Homo sapiens: one gene and its partners. The protein of the gene in region 3 purifies or fractionates together with the protein of the main gene of each other region. This does not show direct contact. Each region holds a gene or a part of one and is shown on either strand. Other genes may lie near its edges.

Region 1 (3,298 bases), about 130 Mb from region 3:
TTGATGCAAGAACTCAGGCGAACCAGGCAAGGAACGCCACCGGCGAATAGGTGGGGCCAGGGGCTCCTGCCAGTCAGCCAGGGGCATAGTTCCGGGCCCTGGTGCATCCAGGTCAAATACCAGAGAGATGACAGACTTGCTGGGCAGGTCAAAAAACTTGATCTTGCCCCCCATGAGGTCCTGGCGAGCACTAAAAGGGTTGACTTTGGGGGTGCGGGCAGCACCATCTCGTGGCCGGTAGTATGGGTCCAAGACACTCACTGTACGTGGGGGCTTACGGGAAAAGATATCTGACTGGCTTCGAGACAGCCAGATGGTACGTCTTGGGCATGGTGACTTGTGGGGGATCTTGTCATCCAGTGAGCTTAGTCGCTTCACCCCAGGTGCTTTCTCCAAGAGTCCTGAAGAATAATCAAGTCTGGGTTACTCTCACTAGTCATAACAAATACAAGCAGCATTTTACCACAGAATGTTTTCACTCATGAAAGCAAAGCTGATACCATGGCCCTGTTTTACCAATGAAGAAACAGACTCAGAGAGGGGAAGCAGTATGCCAAGCCACAGCTCTTAAAAAGGCCAGTACTTTCTGCATCATCTCCTTCCCCTCCCATTTGTTTCTGGACCTGGGATCCTGGCAATCACAACCCTAAGAGGAGAAGGCCCCACATCCGAATTTCCTCCCTTAGGGTTAGGTTGGGCTCCCTGGTCTAATCTCTTACCCCTGGCTGTGGGCTGCAGCTTCCTATCCCTCTCCTGCTCTTCTTCCTGTAGGCGGCTCAGAATTTCCTCCAGGGTCTTCCCAATCTCCACAAAAGATGGGCGCAGTTTGGGATCCATCTGTAGGTATCCACAACAGCCATGAGCTCTGCCCTCCATCTCCCACCCCAAAGATGGCATTTGAGTCTATTTCTGGCATCTTTGAAGATTCAGATGTGCAGCTGAGAGACCTTTTCTAAAGGCCCCAGACAATGAAGGTGATCCCTACAGTTCAGGTCAGGGAAAACACTACTGTCTACTACCCTCCCTGTCTTAGTGTTTGTCTTATCACCTTGTCACAGAACCTTCCAAAAGTATGCTCATATTAGTTTATTCTGTTCTTGAGTTCTGCTCCTAATGTGTTTCTGGGAGGTATCTGAACAAAGCCCACCTACCCCTTGATCCTAACAGGTAAGGTCCAGCCCCAGAGCTACATACATGAAGGCCAAGAAGAGCCTTTCTCATATGCCTCAGGACCAGTTGGATCCACAGTCCAACAATAAAACCGGACCAGAGTTCCATCAACACCTAACGCAAGGAGTGATGGGTCTACCCTACAGGTTGAGGACCAGATAATACAAAACAACTTCTTTCTTTCCTTTGTCCAGAGCTCTGAATAGGTTAGCTGCCAGAGGGAGGAGGAGGAGGTGTGGTTGCTGTCACTACAGTGAAAATGAGGTCCCTCATGAAGCTAATTAGCAGCCTCTCTGTACAGTCCTAACCAGGTGAAAAGGGTTCAGCCAGCCCCTGATGAAAGGCAGAGGGAGAAAGACACTCACGTTACAGCAGTTGAAAGTAAGTTGCAGAAAATCTGGGGGACAGTCTCCCACCATGTGCTGGAAAGCATCATAGTCCAGCCCGAAATTCTGTGGATGGGTATGGAAAGCATAGGTAGACAGTTCATTAATCCCCCCACCCATCCTAGCCTGCTCAGTAGAAGTGGTTGGGAGCTGCCCCTGACAACCAGCAACAGAGAGTTCCAGCAAGTCCATCCCAGGGACAGAACAGTTCCATTGCTTCAAACTAGCCCCATCAGTGGCAATGATCCCCATGCTTGCAGCTCACCTCTGTGCGGGGAAGATAGTCCGGATCGGCCTGGATGCGGGCGATGATCTCGCAGAGGATGATACCATAAGAGAACACATCTGCCTGGTGGGTAGTCGGACTTTGGTTTCCCTCTTAATGGGTTGAGGGGTAGGGTATCTGCCCCTGCCCCTGCCTCCCCTGCACCCCACCATCTAACAGCCCAGGCCTGGGCCATATTGCCCATACTTCATCCCAGTCAGTCACTGGGCAGCTGCCAGGTACCACCACTGCTCTTGGTAGGAACATCTTGGACACTCTGCTAAGAGTGGATTCTAGGGAGAATCAGCCGAGCGCGATGGCTCATGCCTGTAATCCCAGCACTTCAAGAGGCCGAGGTGGGCAGATCACTTCAGGTCAGGAGTCTGAGACCAGCCTGGCCAATATGGTGAAACCCTGTCTCTACTAAAAATAAAAAAATTAGCTGGGCGTGGTGGTGCATGCCTGTAATTCCAGCTACTTGGGAAGCTGAGGCAGGAGAATAGCTTGAACTCGGGAGGCAGTAAGCCGAGATCGTGCCACTGCATTCCAGCCTGAGCAACATAGTGAGACCATCTCAAAAAAAAGAAAAAGAAAAAAGGAGAATCAGGCCTTGAGATCCTCCAAACTTACCTTTTCATTATAGGGCTCATCTCGGAGAACCTCAGGTGCCATCCAGAATGGGGAACCCACCACGGCCAGCTTCTCACTCCCCATGCTGTGGGGTGAGATTATACAGAAAATGAGCTTGCCAATGGCTGGTGCAATGGAATCTTTTGACCATTCCTCCACCTCAAGGATGGGTACAGACGAGGACTAAACAAATTTAGGGAGCTGAGGTTGAGCTGTGACCAAGTCCTGGCCTCTGGGGAGGAGGCTAGAATTTTCCCTTAGCTTCAGCCCCCTGTCCCTTGGACCCCAGCATCCAGTAGGGCTACACACCTGACATCGGGGATCTTCTCAGCCAGGCCAAAGTCAGCTACCACTGCAGAGTAACCATTCTCATCCCTCTTTATCAGGCAGTTCTAGGGTTCCCAGGAAGGAAGAGAAAATAATGTGGCTCAGAAGCGGGGATCAGCCATAGAGTTACCACCCATTCCCCCCTTCCTATCACAGGGCACCTTGTCCTCTGCTCCTTGGTGAACCGCACTCAAGCTGACCCCACTGGTCAGGTCAGGGGCTCTAAGACAGCCAGGTGAGATGAGTTAGTCCTGGGTCTTGGGTGGCTGTCCTAGGATACACTTCACATTCCAAACACAATTACTCATCTTTGCTTTCTAAGTGCTAGGCATAATTTTAAGTGCTAGAAATAGCTAGATGAAAACAACCAAAACCCTTGTCCTCTTGGAGCTTGCAATATAGGGGAGAACAACAGACTATCAGGCCCCTGGCCTCCCTTCCTCCTTCCTCAGAAACACAGACCCAAAGCCCAGGCCTGACCTTGCCAACTTGATATAAGCACAAGACAAGTGTCTAAGCC
Region 2 (4,408 bases), on a different chromosome or scaffold from region 3:
ATAAATGATTTTGCTTAATGAGGAAGGCATGTCAAAAGCCACGACAGGTCAAAACTAGGCCTCTTTAGCCAAACAGTGAACCAAGTTGGGCATGCAAAGGAAAGTTCTTGAAGAAAACTTAAACTGCTACTCCAGCTAACTCACAAAGGATGAGAAAGCAAAACAGCCTTATCGCTTCTCGGGAGACAGTTTTAGTGGTCTGGATAAAAAATTAAACCAGCCACAATATTCCCGTAAGTCAAGGCCCAATCCAGAGCAAGGCCTTAACTCTCTTCAATGAAGGCTGAGAGAGATGACAGAGCTGCAAAGGAATAATTGAAAGCTAGCAGACGTTGGTTCATGAGGTTTGTTTGTTTGTTTGAGATGGGGTTTTGCTCTGTCGCCCAGGCTGGAGTGCAGTGGTGCGATCTCAGCTCACTGCAATCTCCGCTTCCCGGGCTCAAGCAATTCTCCTGCCTCAGCCTCCCATGTAGCTGGGACTACAGGCACGCACAACCAGGCCTGGCTAATTTTTGCATCTTTAGTAGAGACAGGGTTTCGCCATGTTGGCCAGGCTGGTCTTGAACTCCTGACCTCAAGTGATCCACCCACCTTGGCCTCCCAAAGTGCTGGGATTACAGGTATGAGCCAGTGTGCCCGGCAGTTCATGAGATTTAAGGAAAGAAGCCATCTCCATAACATAGAAGTGCAAGGTGAAGCAGCAAGTGCTGATGTAGAAGCTGCACAAGTTATCTAGAATATGGAGCTAAGATCATTGATGAAGATGGCTACAACTAGACAACAGGTTTTCAGTGTAGACAAAATGGCCTTATATTGGAAGAAGATGTCATCTAGGACAGGGGACCCCAATCCCTGGGTTTAGGAACTAGGCTGCACAGCAAGAGGTGAGTGGCAGGCAAGCAATCCATCTTCTGTCAGATCAGTGGAGGCATTAGATTCTCAAAGGAGCACGAACCTTATTGTGAACTGTGCATGCAAGGGATCTGGGTTGCGTGCTTCTTAGGAGAATCTAATGAAAAATGTAATGAGCTTGAATCATCATGAAACCATCCCCCTCCCCCACCCCATCCCCCAGTCCGTGGAAAAACTGTCTTCCACAAAACTGGTCCCTGGTGCCAAAAATGTTGGGGACTGCTGGTCAAAACTTTCATAGCTAGAGGGAGAAGTCAATGTCTGGCTTCAAAGCTTCAAAAGACAGGCTGACTCTCTCATTAGAAGCTAATGCAGTTGGTAACTTGAAGTTGAAGCCAATGCTGACTTACCATTCTGAATGTCCCAGGGCTCTTAAGAATGATACTAAGTCTACTCTCTCAGTGCTCTACACAACAAAGCCTGGATGACAGCACATCTGTTTACAGTATGATCTACTGAATATTTTAAGACCATTGTTGAGACCCACTGCTCAGGAAAAAGATTCCTTTCAAAATATTACTGCTCAATTACAATGCCCCTGGTCACCCAAAAGCTCTGATAGAGATGTACAAAGACATAAATGTTGTTTTCATGCCTGCTAACACAACATTCATTCTGCAGCACATGGATCAATGAGTAATTTCAACTTTCAAGTCTTATTACTTAAGGAATACCCTTTGTAAGGCTATAGCTGCCATAGATACTGATTGCTCTGATGTATCCAGGAAAAGTGGAAAAGTAAATCAAAAACCTTCTGGAAAGGATTCACCATTCTAAATACCATTAAGAACGGTCATGATTCATGGGAGGAGATCAAAATATTAACATTAACAGGAGTTTGGAAGAAGTTGATCCCAACTCTCATAGATGACTTTGAGAGGTTCAAGACTCCCATGGAGGAGTAATTGCAGATCCGGTGGAAATAGCAAGAGAACTAGAGTTACAAGCGGAGCCTGAAGATGTGACTGAATTGCTGCAATCTCATGATAAAACTAACAGATGAGGAGTTGCTTATTATGGATGAAAAAATAAAGACTCATTTCTTGAGATGGAATCTACTCCTGCTGAAGATGCTCTAAACACTGTTGAAAGGACAACAAACAATTTAGAATATTACATAACTTAGTTGATAAAACAGTGGCAGGGTTTGAGAAGACTGACTACAATTTTGAAAGTTCTACTATGGGGAAAGTGCTATCAAACAGCAACACATGCTCTAGAGAAATCTTTGGTGAAAGGAAGAGTCAGTTGATGCAGCAAACTTCATTACTGTCTTATTTTAAGAAACTGCCACAGCTACCCAAACATGCAGTAACTGCCACCCTGATCAGTCACCAGCCATCAACACTAAGGCAAGAACCTCCAGCAGCAGAAAGAGTATGACTTGCTGAAGGCTCAGATGATCATCAGCATTTTTTAGCAATAAAGTATTTTAATTAAGGTATGTACATTGTTTTCTTAGACAATGCTATTGCACACTTAATAGACTACAGTATAGTTTAAGCATAATTTTTATATGCACCCAGAAACCAAAAAATTCAAGTGACTCACTTTATTGTAATACTCACTTTATGGTGGTGGTCTGGAATCAAACCCACAATTTGTCTCCAAGGTATGCCAGTAGATACTGTCTTCATTGTGGATGAACTTACTGTCTTACAGAAGATACACTCACAAAACCAAGAATACACCAAAAATGCTGCCATCAATTGGTTCAATAAAGGAAGTGTTGGTCAGGAAGGAAAAAGTATGATGTTGCTAGCACTACTGAGAAAGACTTTGTAGAGAAGCAGGACTTAGAGAAGTGGTACCTGGTGTTAACACTCTTGGAGTCAGCTCATTTAAACCAACTTGGGAAGTATACTTTTACAAAAATGTTTTAACAAAACCTGACTCTGATTGTATTACAGATATGTGATTGTTAATTTTATGTGTCTACTTGATTGGTCTACTGGGGTGCCCAGATATCTTGTTAAACATTATTTCTGGCTGTACCTGTGGGTGTTTCTGGAGGAAATCAGCATTGAATTGATGGACTGAGTAAAGGAAAAGGCCCTCCCCAATGTGGGTGGGCATTATCCAACCAGTAGAAGGCCCAAATGGAACAAAAAGGTGAAGAAAGATTGAATTCTCTCTGTCTCTCTCTCTGTCTCTCTCTTTCTCTCTCTCTCTCTCTAGCTGCTTAGCTAATACATCTATATTTTCCTGACCTTATACTAGAACTTATACCATTGGTTCTCCTGGGTCTCCATCTTGGAGACAGCAGATCATGGGACTTCTCAGCCTCCATAATCATGTAAGACAATTCCTTGTAATAAATCTCTTTTTTTCTATGTATATTCTATTGGTTCTGGTTCTCTGGTTCTCTCACTAATACAAGGTATATGTGAATAATTAATACCATCTGGTAAAATGAAAAGTCCAAAGAAAATGAAGATACTTAAGTATCTCTGGCACAAAACGTATAAAGGTATTTGCTAATATGCCGGTATGCTTAATTAAAGGGCCCTGCGATTTGGTCCCTTTATGGATAACTCACAGTACCTAAACAGCAGCATGCTTCACACTGAAATTACTCAGAAAAAGGCTGGTAGAGATAACAACCAGGGATGAACAATCAAAACAGTTCGATCTTGTAACGCTAGTGAATCCTGGAATGAAAAATACCTGTAAGAAAAATCAAACAAGCAAATCAGGCCACATGAGTTAAAACACATGTCACATTGAGGCAAGGGCAGAGCCACTTCTAACTGGAAAAACAGGAAATGCTATGTGTATACTGAACACTAGGCCCCTTTCTCACACACACACACACACCTGCACACACTAGCTCCATGACAAGTGTGGCACTTTCACTGCTTCCATGGAAAATTCATTTGAAGTCAATTTCCAAATAATACAGGCAGACCACAGATATTCTCTGGCACTACCTAAAAGAACATTTCAACTACCCACAAAATATATATTTATATGACTGTACTACTCTCCACCAATAAGAGAGGAACATACAGATTCACTAAGAAGAACTAGAAAAAAAAATCTTCATTAAATTAAGGAACTAAGTTACTAGGCAGGCAGTCTATCCCCGCAAAAACTGTGGCCACTTTACCAAAACATTATAAAACGGTTTATGGTTACACACCCGGGTGCATGTTGCAGGTTGGAACAAAGCCAACAGAAGCTGTGAAGAGCACCCATGACTAGTCATATTAACAACCCACACAATGATTTCTCTTCTTCTATCATTGTCACTAAACAAGAATAAAATGTATTGGGGGGAAAAAATCTGATTTTAAAATCACAACATTCCAATAAATGATCATTTGAAAGGACACTGGCTAGGGATAGATTAAAGGAATTTTTTTTAAATCCCCAACTCACAGTCAACTGTACAATGAACCTCCCAACTCTCACCTTGTTTTAACTATGTGGTAAAAACACACAAGCGTAATCAGGATTCACTGGTATTTCCCAAAATTGCTGAATGCCCAATTTC
Region 3 (5,157 bases):
ACATCTGCCTTCAATATATCTTCTTTGAAAACTCAGTTCACTGACCTTTTGATAAAACTGCTCCCCAGAATTCCCTGACAATCATGATTTAAATGCATTAAGTTAAGGGCTTGGTTAATGCCTGGCCCCAAGAGCCAGGATAAAGATTATAGGCCAACCTGCAGGTAAAATAATGGGCCAAGCCACAGAATCAGACAACTTTAAAGCTAAAAGGGACCACAGATACCAATTACTCCAGATTCCACTTTTATGCTGAAACCTAGAGGCCATGAGTTAAAACTACCTGCCCAGAATTAGACAACCAACTTGTGGCAAAGCCAGAATGAAACCAATACTCTAAGCTTCTAGTTGTATCCTCTAGACTAGGTTCCCAATTTGTAGATTTCCCTGAAACATGTTAGACTACACTCATCAAAGTCTCTTTAAATTGTGAGAAGAACCTAGGTGATCCAAGACAACGAAGGTTTTGAACACACAGACAAGAAACAAGAAAAACAAAAATTCTGTATTCTCCAAATTGTTTTTCTACATTCTATTACTTTTATTTCAAAGTTTTTACTTCAAAGTTTTCAAACATACACCCTGTTCATACAATAGGCAACTTAAAACTAGCTAAGGACATAGCCAAGAGTCATTCCAATAGTTCTGAAATATTTACATAAACTAAAGACAACAAAATAGTATCCAGGATGAGCTGCCTCAGAGGAAGGAAAGTAGCAATACTAAACAATAAATAAAAACAACTTCTGGTTAATTGATAGAGAAAACAAAAAAAGTTACAATGCAGTGGTAAGTCTGCAATTGGTCACAAAAATGCAAGGCATGGTATGTATATGTGTGTGTCACACACATATACATACCATGCATTTCTGTGATGTCTGATATGAAGTCTTGACATCAATTGAACCACGCAGAAAGAAAACTTCTAAGTCGTGGTCACTCTTGAACAATAAACATATATCCTGTTCAGAAGGACGAAAGAAAAAAAACATAATGTAAACTTGCTCTCACTCTCTCTCTCTCTTACACACACACACACACACACACAAAATATACAATATATATTTCACAAATCAACCCCTAGGAATGGACTACAAAACAACATACATTTGTAGACTTTTATGTCCTTACAAATGAAGAACGATAGTTAACACTAGGTCCAGAGAACCCAGATTGTTTTGGATACTGAAATACCGAATTATCATATACATGTATTCTTAGAATAGCATGGCCCTATTTCTAACATCACACAAATAAACAGTATGCCAAAGAAGTGTGTAAGGAGAGAAAGATGATAGAATGGGAAAACGTTGTAACTACAATATACTCTAATTCATATGCACTTTCAGATTCTCACCAACCTTTGTTCTAAATGACCAGCTAAGTGGGATTTAGCAGGCAGACGGAAAATCAGGCACCAAAGTTTTTAATCTAATTTGCTGAGAACAAACTGGGTGACCTTGCATCGTCTCCCACTCCTTTGCTTTAAATCTTCCGGTACGTAGAGTAACATCAAGAAACAGCCAGCAAAATACAAAGTGGTACACAAATCCTTAAGAACTGGTTATAAGAAGAATTCCTGGATTTTTATGATTAAAAGGGTCACTAGTGATGATTTAATCCAATCCACTCACTTTACAGATGAGGAATCACAAGCCAAAAATGTGACTCGATCTGCCCCAAATCCCATAGCCATTTAGTGGTAGAACTGAGACAAGAACTGAGATCTCTGGACTCCTAGTTCTATGATCTTTGCGATGGACATTAAGTCTTCAAATCAACTGAACTACACAGAAAAAAACCTAAGTCTTGGTCACTCTTGAATAGTAAGCATATACCCTGTTCAGAAAGATGAAAGAAAAAAACATAAGGTACTTGATCACTACAGGCTTAGATGCACAAGACTGCAGGATAACATCTTAACATTGTGTTTGATCCCAGGTGCTTCAAATTTGCCATCTTATACTCAGCCACGTTACTAATGTCTTCTGCAGTCACGTGAGCTAGGCGATAAACATCTTGCCGTTTCAATATTTTGGAAAGCCACAGCTCAGTCCTGAATGCCAGGCTATAAATCCTTAAGCTATGAGTTTTCAAAACCAGCATGGTTTTAGTGCTGCCACAAGGCTCACCCTAATAGAATCTCATCATTCAGTTTTAATTAAAGAGGTGGTTACCAGGAATGCAGAAAGGGAAAGTTTTAGTGTGTTCATCACTTTTAACCTGCTGAGTGGCAACCCAGTCACTTTACAACGAGATTCAGAAACAATAGTGTAATCTGAAACAATCCACACCCGTTGGAATAAGTGGTTGCTTTTAGAGAGAGTGAGGTTCAGGCAGAGGTTATAGATTAGTCTTGCTCCCACCAAATACATAGTTTGCATTTTTTTCATTCATTAGCTTATCCTCTGCTTTTTCATAATATCTTGGTTTCCAGTCTTGCCTCATTCAACAATAAAAAGAGACGAAAATCCATTCACTTGGTTTCATGGAGTTTTTCCATCATACCTTCTTGAAGATTGATTGCCTGGCTGTTCCCTTGAAGTAATCGCCTAAGAATTACGTCTTGGATAGCCCAACTCCCGCATTAAACTTACTGCAGGTGTCTGAAGAGGTCCAAAGACCATACTGAGTGACATCCCTGCCCAAGTGATAGTCTGAAGAAACTTGTCAGAAATGCACCCCCAGAACAAAAAGGGATGTGGGAAACTGACCTAGCACGGATGAGGACTGGGAATGAGCCTGTGACTTAGGGAATGAATTTCAGCCCAAGCAAAAATAGGAAACACCAGCCTCTAAGACGGCCTGTGGTCCTTACCGTACACCCGGACCCAGCTCTGTTGCTGGCACACGGACTCCAGAAGGATCCGATCCAACATGCCACCGGCGACGGCTCCACTGACTGGGACAACCGCGTCCAGGTCCTCCGGGGGCAGCGGCGAGTCGGACTCCAGCGCCGGGAACATCTCCGGCCAGGACAGCGCCTCCGCGGCTCCTCCGGACGACGGAGAGAGCTCCATGGTGCCCCGAGGCGGGAGGGGGACGAGGCGGCGGCTTCGGGGCGGGCTGGCGCGCGGCTCCGCGCCCTGCCTGCGGTAAGGGGAGGAGGAGAGCGCGCAGCGAGGGCAGGGACCCGAGCGGCAGCCGGCGCGGACACCTCTCACCTCCTTCCCCGTCGCCCACTGCCCGAGGCTCGGGCGATGCAGCCCACCTGCAGTCGGCGGGCGGGACCCAGGCCGGGAGGAGGATCCAGCGTGGCCCCGACCAAGGGTGGGTCCGGGCTCAGGTGTGTGTGGGTCCCTCCCGGGAGAGGACGCAGAAGAACCCGGGAGGGGAGGCTCGCCCTCCCACCTCCTCGGAGCCGCCTTCTTCAGCCCCGCCGGCGTCTCTCGCGGTCAGACCAGGCTCTGGCTGGGGATGGAGCGGGGCCGGGCAGGGCTGGGCTTGGGGGCGTCGCCGCCAGGGGCCGCCCCCTCTGACCGGCTCCCGCCGCCGCCGCCTCAGAAGCTCCGAGTGCCCGTTCCCTCAGCCTGAGGAGGGGTAGGGGGCGGTGGCCCCGGGTTCTAGCCCGCCTGTCCTCGGCCCCCACTTCTGGAATGAGCCTGCCCGCCCCCTGACTCTCAGGCCACAGCTCCGGCCACAGCTCTGGCTCCTGCTCCGCGGCGGATCCCACAAACCCGGCAGCCACGGCGGTGGCGGTGGCGGTGGCGGTGGCGGTGGCGGCGGCGGCGGCGGCGGCAGCGGCAGGCGGCATCCCAGGGTGATAGGCTGAAGCAATCGAGGGCCGAGAGCCCGGCCGCGTGTGCACTCGAGTAACGAAGCCGGGGAGGGACTGCGCCGCAGGCAGGAAAAGTCGGACACCGAATTATTCATCCGGCCTGTCCCGCCTACTTTCCAAGTACCCTCCCAGGGATAGCCGGGTATTGAGCGGTCCGGGTCTCTGCTGCTCAAAGTAAAGACCGTTTGAGAAGGCGGGGAGGTAAAAGGGTGCGGGAAATTTAAACAGAAAAGAAAGGAGCTTCCCTTCCTTCTCACACCTTTCCTATTTATTTGTTTCTTTCTTTCTTTATGGGCCAACGTTTCTTTCTTATTGGACAAAGAGATCGAAGAAGCTGCTTTATCTTACAGTCACCCAAGGGGGAGCGCCTTCTTCCTTCCCAGAGTGGAGTGGCAGTGGGTCCGGGATTCTGGGATATGCACAGGGTCTGCGCCCTGCGCCCTGTCCGCGCTGAAGCTGAACTTGTCATTGGTTTGCAACAGCATGGTGAAGAAGTGTGGTGTGGATGGACGGACGGGCCTCTCAGGCACATGAAATACTCAAAGCCCAGTATTAACCAAACATGTTTCTCTGTTTTGTCTTTGATCTTTGTGCAGTGTGTTGGCTTTTTTCCTTTAATGATGTCACTTGTATTTTATTTTTGGTTTATTTGTAGACTGTCTCCCTCCTTGGCCATGGCTTTACTTTTATGTCCACCCAAGGAGAGTTTCACCAGTTTAGGTTTAAGAAATTACTGACAAGTTAACAATAATAATTTCAAAATTGAACAGTAATAACTTAAACCGTGCCTTGGACATAGTAGATCTCCAACAGTTTTTCTTGAATGTGGCTACCTAATGTGGAACAAGATTTTTCATAATTACATGTTGCTATTTTTAATACCTTTTGGGAGGTTCTTTAGTCCCCCCCGCCCTTTCTCCCTACGTTGCACAAAGAGACTGGTCTACAAGGGGTCCTGTTAGTTTTCTGGTTTTGTGGGGTCCTGGAATATTGTTTGGGCTTATTGAGAGTTAACAAGGATGTATTTTGTGAGTTTCTCCAAAGTCTTATTTAGAGTAATAGTATTTCAAAGCAAGAAGTGTTTTAGAGAGAACATCATTCTGCCTCTTGTTTAACAGGTGAGGAAACTGAGGAAAAACCAGCTTACCTGGCTAATCAACCACAAGTACAGATAGTTCCACAATGACTCAATGGATATTACTTCAACTTTGTTCCCTCAAGAAACTTTTGTGATTAAGCTTGTTGATTTGTGGCTTGATGGTTTACAGGAATGGTCATTTTTAATATCTAGGACCCTGCTTGCTTGCTTGCTTGCTTGCTTACTAGACTGGCTGCATAGTCAGTCTTCCACGTGTAAACAACAGTGTGTGCTTTAGTGG
Region 4 (4,384 bases), on a different chromosome or scaffold from region 3:
TGCCCGGCTAATTTTTTTATTTTTATTTTTAGTAGAGATGGGGTTTCACCATGATAGCCAGGATGGTCTCGATCTCCTGACCTCGTGATCCACCTGCCTCGGCCTCCCAGTGCTGGCATTACAGGCGTGAACCACTGCGCCTGGCCAACAAACAGTCTTAACACAAATAAAATAACGACTGGGAACAATGATGTAGCCTGCCAGAAGGCAGGTAACACAACCAGGATGAAAACAATCAGGTAAGCGCAGTATGCTTGCCCAACCCATTCACTATCAAGAGAAACTGGCTGCTTGGGAGACCTTTCAAGTAAGTTAGGTGACTTAAAGCAGAACTCCTCTGTACCCCACAAATCCTTCTGTATCTGTCAGCAACAGCCAGTTAAGCATTGACAGGCTGGCGGTCCCTCTACCTCCCCTCGCATCCCCGCTTCTGTGCTTTGTCCATAACAGACAGTGGTGCTGCTGGCACAGACTGAGACACTGGGTAAGCAAACATGAAAGCAGGGGAGGCCGGGCGCGGTGGCTCACACCTGTAATCCCACCACTTTGGGAGGCCAAGGTGGGCGGATCACTTGAGGTCATCAGGAGTTCGAGACCAGCCTGGCCAATATGGTGAAACCTCGTCACTACAAAAAAAACAGTAATGAGCCGGGCGTGGTGGCACATGCCTGTAATCCCAGCTACTCAGGAGGCGGAGGCTGCAGTGAGCCAAGACTGTACCTCCAGCCTGGGCAACAAAGCAAGACCCTGTCTCCCAAAAAAAAAAAGCGGGGAAAAGATCGGGCTGCGCACCCTGAAGGAAGAGACAGGAGGGTGAAGTTCAGGAAGACAAGATGGAAACATTCTTATATCCAGATCTGGGTGGTGCCTGCACAGAGCACACATACAATACTTCACTGATAAGTATGCTTAAGACCTGTGCCATTGCCTTATATAACCTACACCTCCATGAAAACCCAAAACAAACAGGCCACAAGCTCCCTGTTTGCTATCCTTTATTAAAGGGCCCACATCCTCATGGGACTCCAGCCAAACCAGTCAGGTCCCCCAAATATAGCAGGAGGCCTGGAAGGGGAGGGGAATGACTTATGATCCTACCATGCCTCCCAAGAAACAGAAACCACCACAGACAGACAGACAGACGGACAGGGGCTGGGGAGAACTTGCCTCACTCTCAGTCCTCTCCCACTTTCCCCCACTTGAAAAGAAAGTCAAACACTGGCTACGCAGCACCCCAGCCCCCCACCCCACCCATAGCAGCGTTTGTGGGACACACCCCCTTTGCAAGGGGTGGCCCCGAGGCAGCTTCCTATCTCTCTCTTCACTTTGGTTTGCTCCTGGCAACTCCGTGCCCTCTTCCTTTCCTCAGCCTCCGGCTCGGTCTCCCCCTTGTCTTCTATCACCTACTCGGACCTTCTCTCTCATCTCCTGGGCCTCCCTGCCCCAGCACTTCTGGGGAAGCAGCGTCTCGGGCGTCTTCCCTTCTCCTAGCAAGGGGCCCCACCAGGCCCTCTGCCCAGGATGTGGGACTCACACAGCTGCCCCACTCTCCTTGAGGTCAGGGGCAGAACGCTGCCGTCTCATTCGTGGGGGAGTAGTGTATGGGGGGTAGCGGGGCCCTGGGGGCCGCTGGGCTGGGTAGGGTTGGGGTGGCTGGGGATAAGAGTTGTGCTTTTTGGGCTGGAAGTGCTGGGGTTCAGGCTGTGCAGAACCCGCTCCCCGGGATCGGCCCCCTCCATCCAGGGAGTTCCTGCGGGGATGGTGGGACCTTCGGGGACTCGGAGGCCGGCGGGCAGGGGTGGCTGGATGGGGAGTGACCTCCTCAGGGGGTTGGAGCGGAGTTGGAGCCTCCCCGCTCCCCATCCCTGGCCAAGACTCCCGGTGCTGGGGGTTGCTCTTGAAGGGGAAGCGTAGCTTGCAGTCGTGAGGGGGCACAAAGCGGGCTGGGGGCCTGCGCAGCCCCCCGCCCCGGCCCCCAGAGCCCTGCAGTCCCTGCAGCCGTAGCTGCTCCTGCTTGAGCCAGCGAAGACGACCACGACGGAAGGCAGGGTCCTCCTCCATGAGCCGTGACACCCGCTCCCAGCTTGACAGTGGTGGCGAGGGGGGCCGGGCTGACGGCATGCGGTCACTGGGGGCTGCCTCCTCTGCTGCCTCTGATCCTTCAGGCGGGGCCCAGGGGACCTCACCACCTTCTTCATTCTCATCCTCATGATCCTGGGAGGGAGGAGTGAGAAAAGGAGAAGGGATGTGAGGAGAGCTGAATCCTCAGGACATGTGGATTCAAGAGGGACCTGGAGTGGCTGGATGTCAAAGGGTCCAGAGAAAAGCCTAGAGATAAGGAAGCTCGAAAAATAGTGGTTTAGGGCCGGGCGCAGTGGCTCACGCCTGTAATCGCAGCACTTTGGGAAGCTGAGGTGGGCGGATCACAAGGTCAAGAGATCAAGACCATCCTGGCCAACATGGTGAAACCCCGTCTCTACTAAAATACAAAAAAAAAAAATTAGCCGGGTGTGGTGGTGCGCGCCTGTAGTCCCAGCTACTCAGGAGGCTGAGGCAGGAGAATGGCTTGAACCTGGGAGGCGGAAGTTGCAGTGAGCCGAGATTGTGCCACTGCACTCCAGACTGGCAACAGAGCAAGACTTCACCTCAGAAACAAAACAAAACTGCAAACTTTATATCAGTGGGTCTTAGACTTCACTGTATTTCAGAAACACCCAGAGCTTATTATAAATGCAGATTTGTCCCCAAAGATGTGGATTCAGTAGGTCTGGGGTGGAACCCGGGAATCTATTTTAATTAGCAGCCTGGTGACAGCGAGGCATGTGGTTCGTAAACAATATTGAAAAAAACGTACTATACTTCAATGCAATTTTTTCCAGACTTGGGGAAGGTTAGGCTCTGAGATGGAAGGTTCAGACTCCTAAAGTGAAGAGCCGAGGGAGGAGAGAAGGGAGGCAGAAGGCCAGTCCTACCTGGGCCAGGGGGATGACCCTCTCCATGCGGAGCATGCGGTCCCGCAGGGCCTGCAGCTCCCGGTCCTTGCTGCTGTTCTGCAGCTTCACCTCCTGCAGAATCCCCGTCAGCTTGTCGATGTGGGCCCGGAGGTCCTCCACCTCCGCCCCTCGGGCTCCCTCCTCACTGCCACCACCACTGCCAGCTCCACCTCCTTCCTCCTCGCCTACAGTGTCCCAGACATCCCGGGCCACAGCCCTCCAGGCGTCTCCGGGGCCGTCTGGCTTGCCATAGGTGCGACACAGCTCCCGCATCTTGAGGGCGGCCAGGGCCTCAATCTCAGCCCGCCCGTGGCGGAAGTCAGCCAGGGCCACCTCGTAGCAGATCTCCTTCACCGCCTGCATCTTCAGGTCAGCCATGGTGGCCCAGCGGGGGTCTTTGCCCTGCAGCCTGCGTCGCTGGGGGATCTGATAAACCCTGCGAGGGGCCCTGCGCTTGCCACTGCTGGGCAGACCACAGCGTTTGACAATGGTCTGGACCGTGGTGGGCGGCAGCTGCTCCCGCAAGGAGGAGATGAGCCTCCAGCTCTCTTCACAAGAGCGCTTGTCAGAGTCATCCCCGCTGTCCGAGTCTGCATACTGGGGCCAGAGAAAGAAAGAGGAAGAGAGGGCTAAGGACATCCAGAGCCCATGTGTCTTGGCCCAGTGTGTCCTAAGTACACTGGAAACACGCCCATCAGGGAGCCTGGGTTCAAGTCCTGCTCCACCCCAACAGCGCACCCTTGGGCAGACTGCTTAACGCTGCTCTTCTAGACAACAGAGATAGTGACGGGATCTACCTCCCAGATCCACGTGGAGTACTTAGAACCATGGCCGGCACCGAGAAAGTTACCATAAGTATTAGTTGTAGCTAATCGAGTGTGGAACTTTGTGCAAGACTTAAAAGACCATTGAGGGGTGGTGGCTCGTGCCTGCAATCCCAGCATGTTGGAAGGCCAAGGCAGGAGGATCACTTGAGCCCAGGAGCTGAAGACCAGCCTGGGTAATGTAGTGAGACCCCCACCTCTACAAAAAATAAAAAATGTAGCCAGGCATGGAAGTGCACACCTGTGATCCCAGCTACTCAGGAGGTTGAGGTGGAAGGACTGCTTGAACCCAAGGAGTTCGAGGCTGCAGTGAGCTATGATCAGGCCACTGCACTCCAGCCAGGGTGACAGAGCAAGATCCTGCCTCAAAAACAAAATAGAAAGTCCATGGCCGGGTGCGGTGGCTCATGCCTGTAATCCCAGCATTTTGGGAGGCTGAGGCAGGCGGATCACCTGAGGTCAGGAGTTCGAGACCAGCCTGGCCAACATGGTGAAACCCTGTCTCTACTAAAAATACAATAATTATTAGCCAGGCATGGTGGCGGGCTCCTGTAATCCCAGCTACTG

What was found.
Region 1: the proteins of RASAL2 (region 3) and TESK2 purify together in Homo sapiens (affinity purification with mass spectrometry, with the first as the bait; one large-scale study listed by BioGRID). This does not show direct contact.
Region 2: the proteins of RASAL2 (region 3) and FAM110B purify together in Homo sapiens (affinity purification with mass spectrometry, with the first as the bait; one large-scale study listed by BioGRID). This does not show direct contact.
Region 4: the proteins of RASAL2 (region 3) and KIF1C purify together in Homo sapiens (affinity purification with mass spectrometry, with the first as the bait; one large-scale study listed by BioGRID). This does not show direct contact.

Annotation. Positions count from the first base shown.
Region 1 is NC_000001.11:45,345,158-45,348,455, forward strand, and holds part of TESK2 (dual specificity testis-specific protein kinase 2), read right to left. Parts: intron 2,844-3,298; coding exon 2,761-2,843; intron 2,537-2,760; coding exon 2,452-2,536; intron 1,906-2,451; coding exon 1,822-1,905; intron 1,623-1,821; coding exon 1,536-1,622; intron 838-1,535; coding exon 720-837; intron 402-719; coding exon 1-401. UniProt on the Homo sapiens protein: Dual specificity protein kinase activity catalyzing autophosphorylation and phosphorylation of exogenous substrates on both serine/threonine and tyrosine residues. Phosphorylates cofilin at 'Ser-3'. May play an important role in spermatogenesis.
Region 2 is NC_000008.11:58,000,697-58,005,104, reverse strand, and holds part of FAM110B (protein FAM110B), read right to left. Parts: intron 1-4,408. UniProt on the Homo sapiens protein: May be involved in tumor progression.
Region 3 is NC_000001.11:178,092,356-178,097,512, reverse strand, and holds the start of RASAL2 (ras GTPase-activating protein nGAP), read right to left. Parts: upstream 3,410-5,157; 5' UTR 3,021-3,409; coding exon 2,819-3,020; intron 1-2,818. UniProt on the Homo sapiens protein: Inhibitory regulator of the Ras-cyclic AMP pathway.
Region 4 is NC_000017.11:5,021,298-5,025,681, reverse strand, and holds part of KIF1C (kinesin-like protein KIF1C), read right to left. Parts: intron 3,591-4,384; coding exon 2,973-3,590; intron 2,215-2,972; coding exon 1,531-2,214; 3' UTR 1-1,530. UniProt on the Homo sapiens protein: Motor required for the retrograde transport of Golgi vesicles to the endoplasmic reticulum. Has a microtubule plus end-directed motility.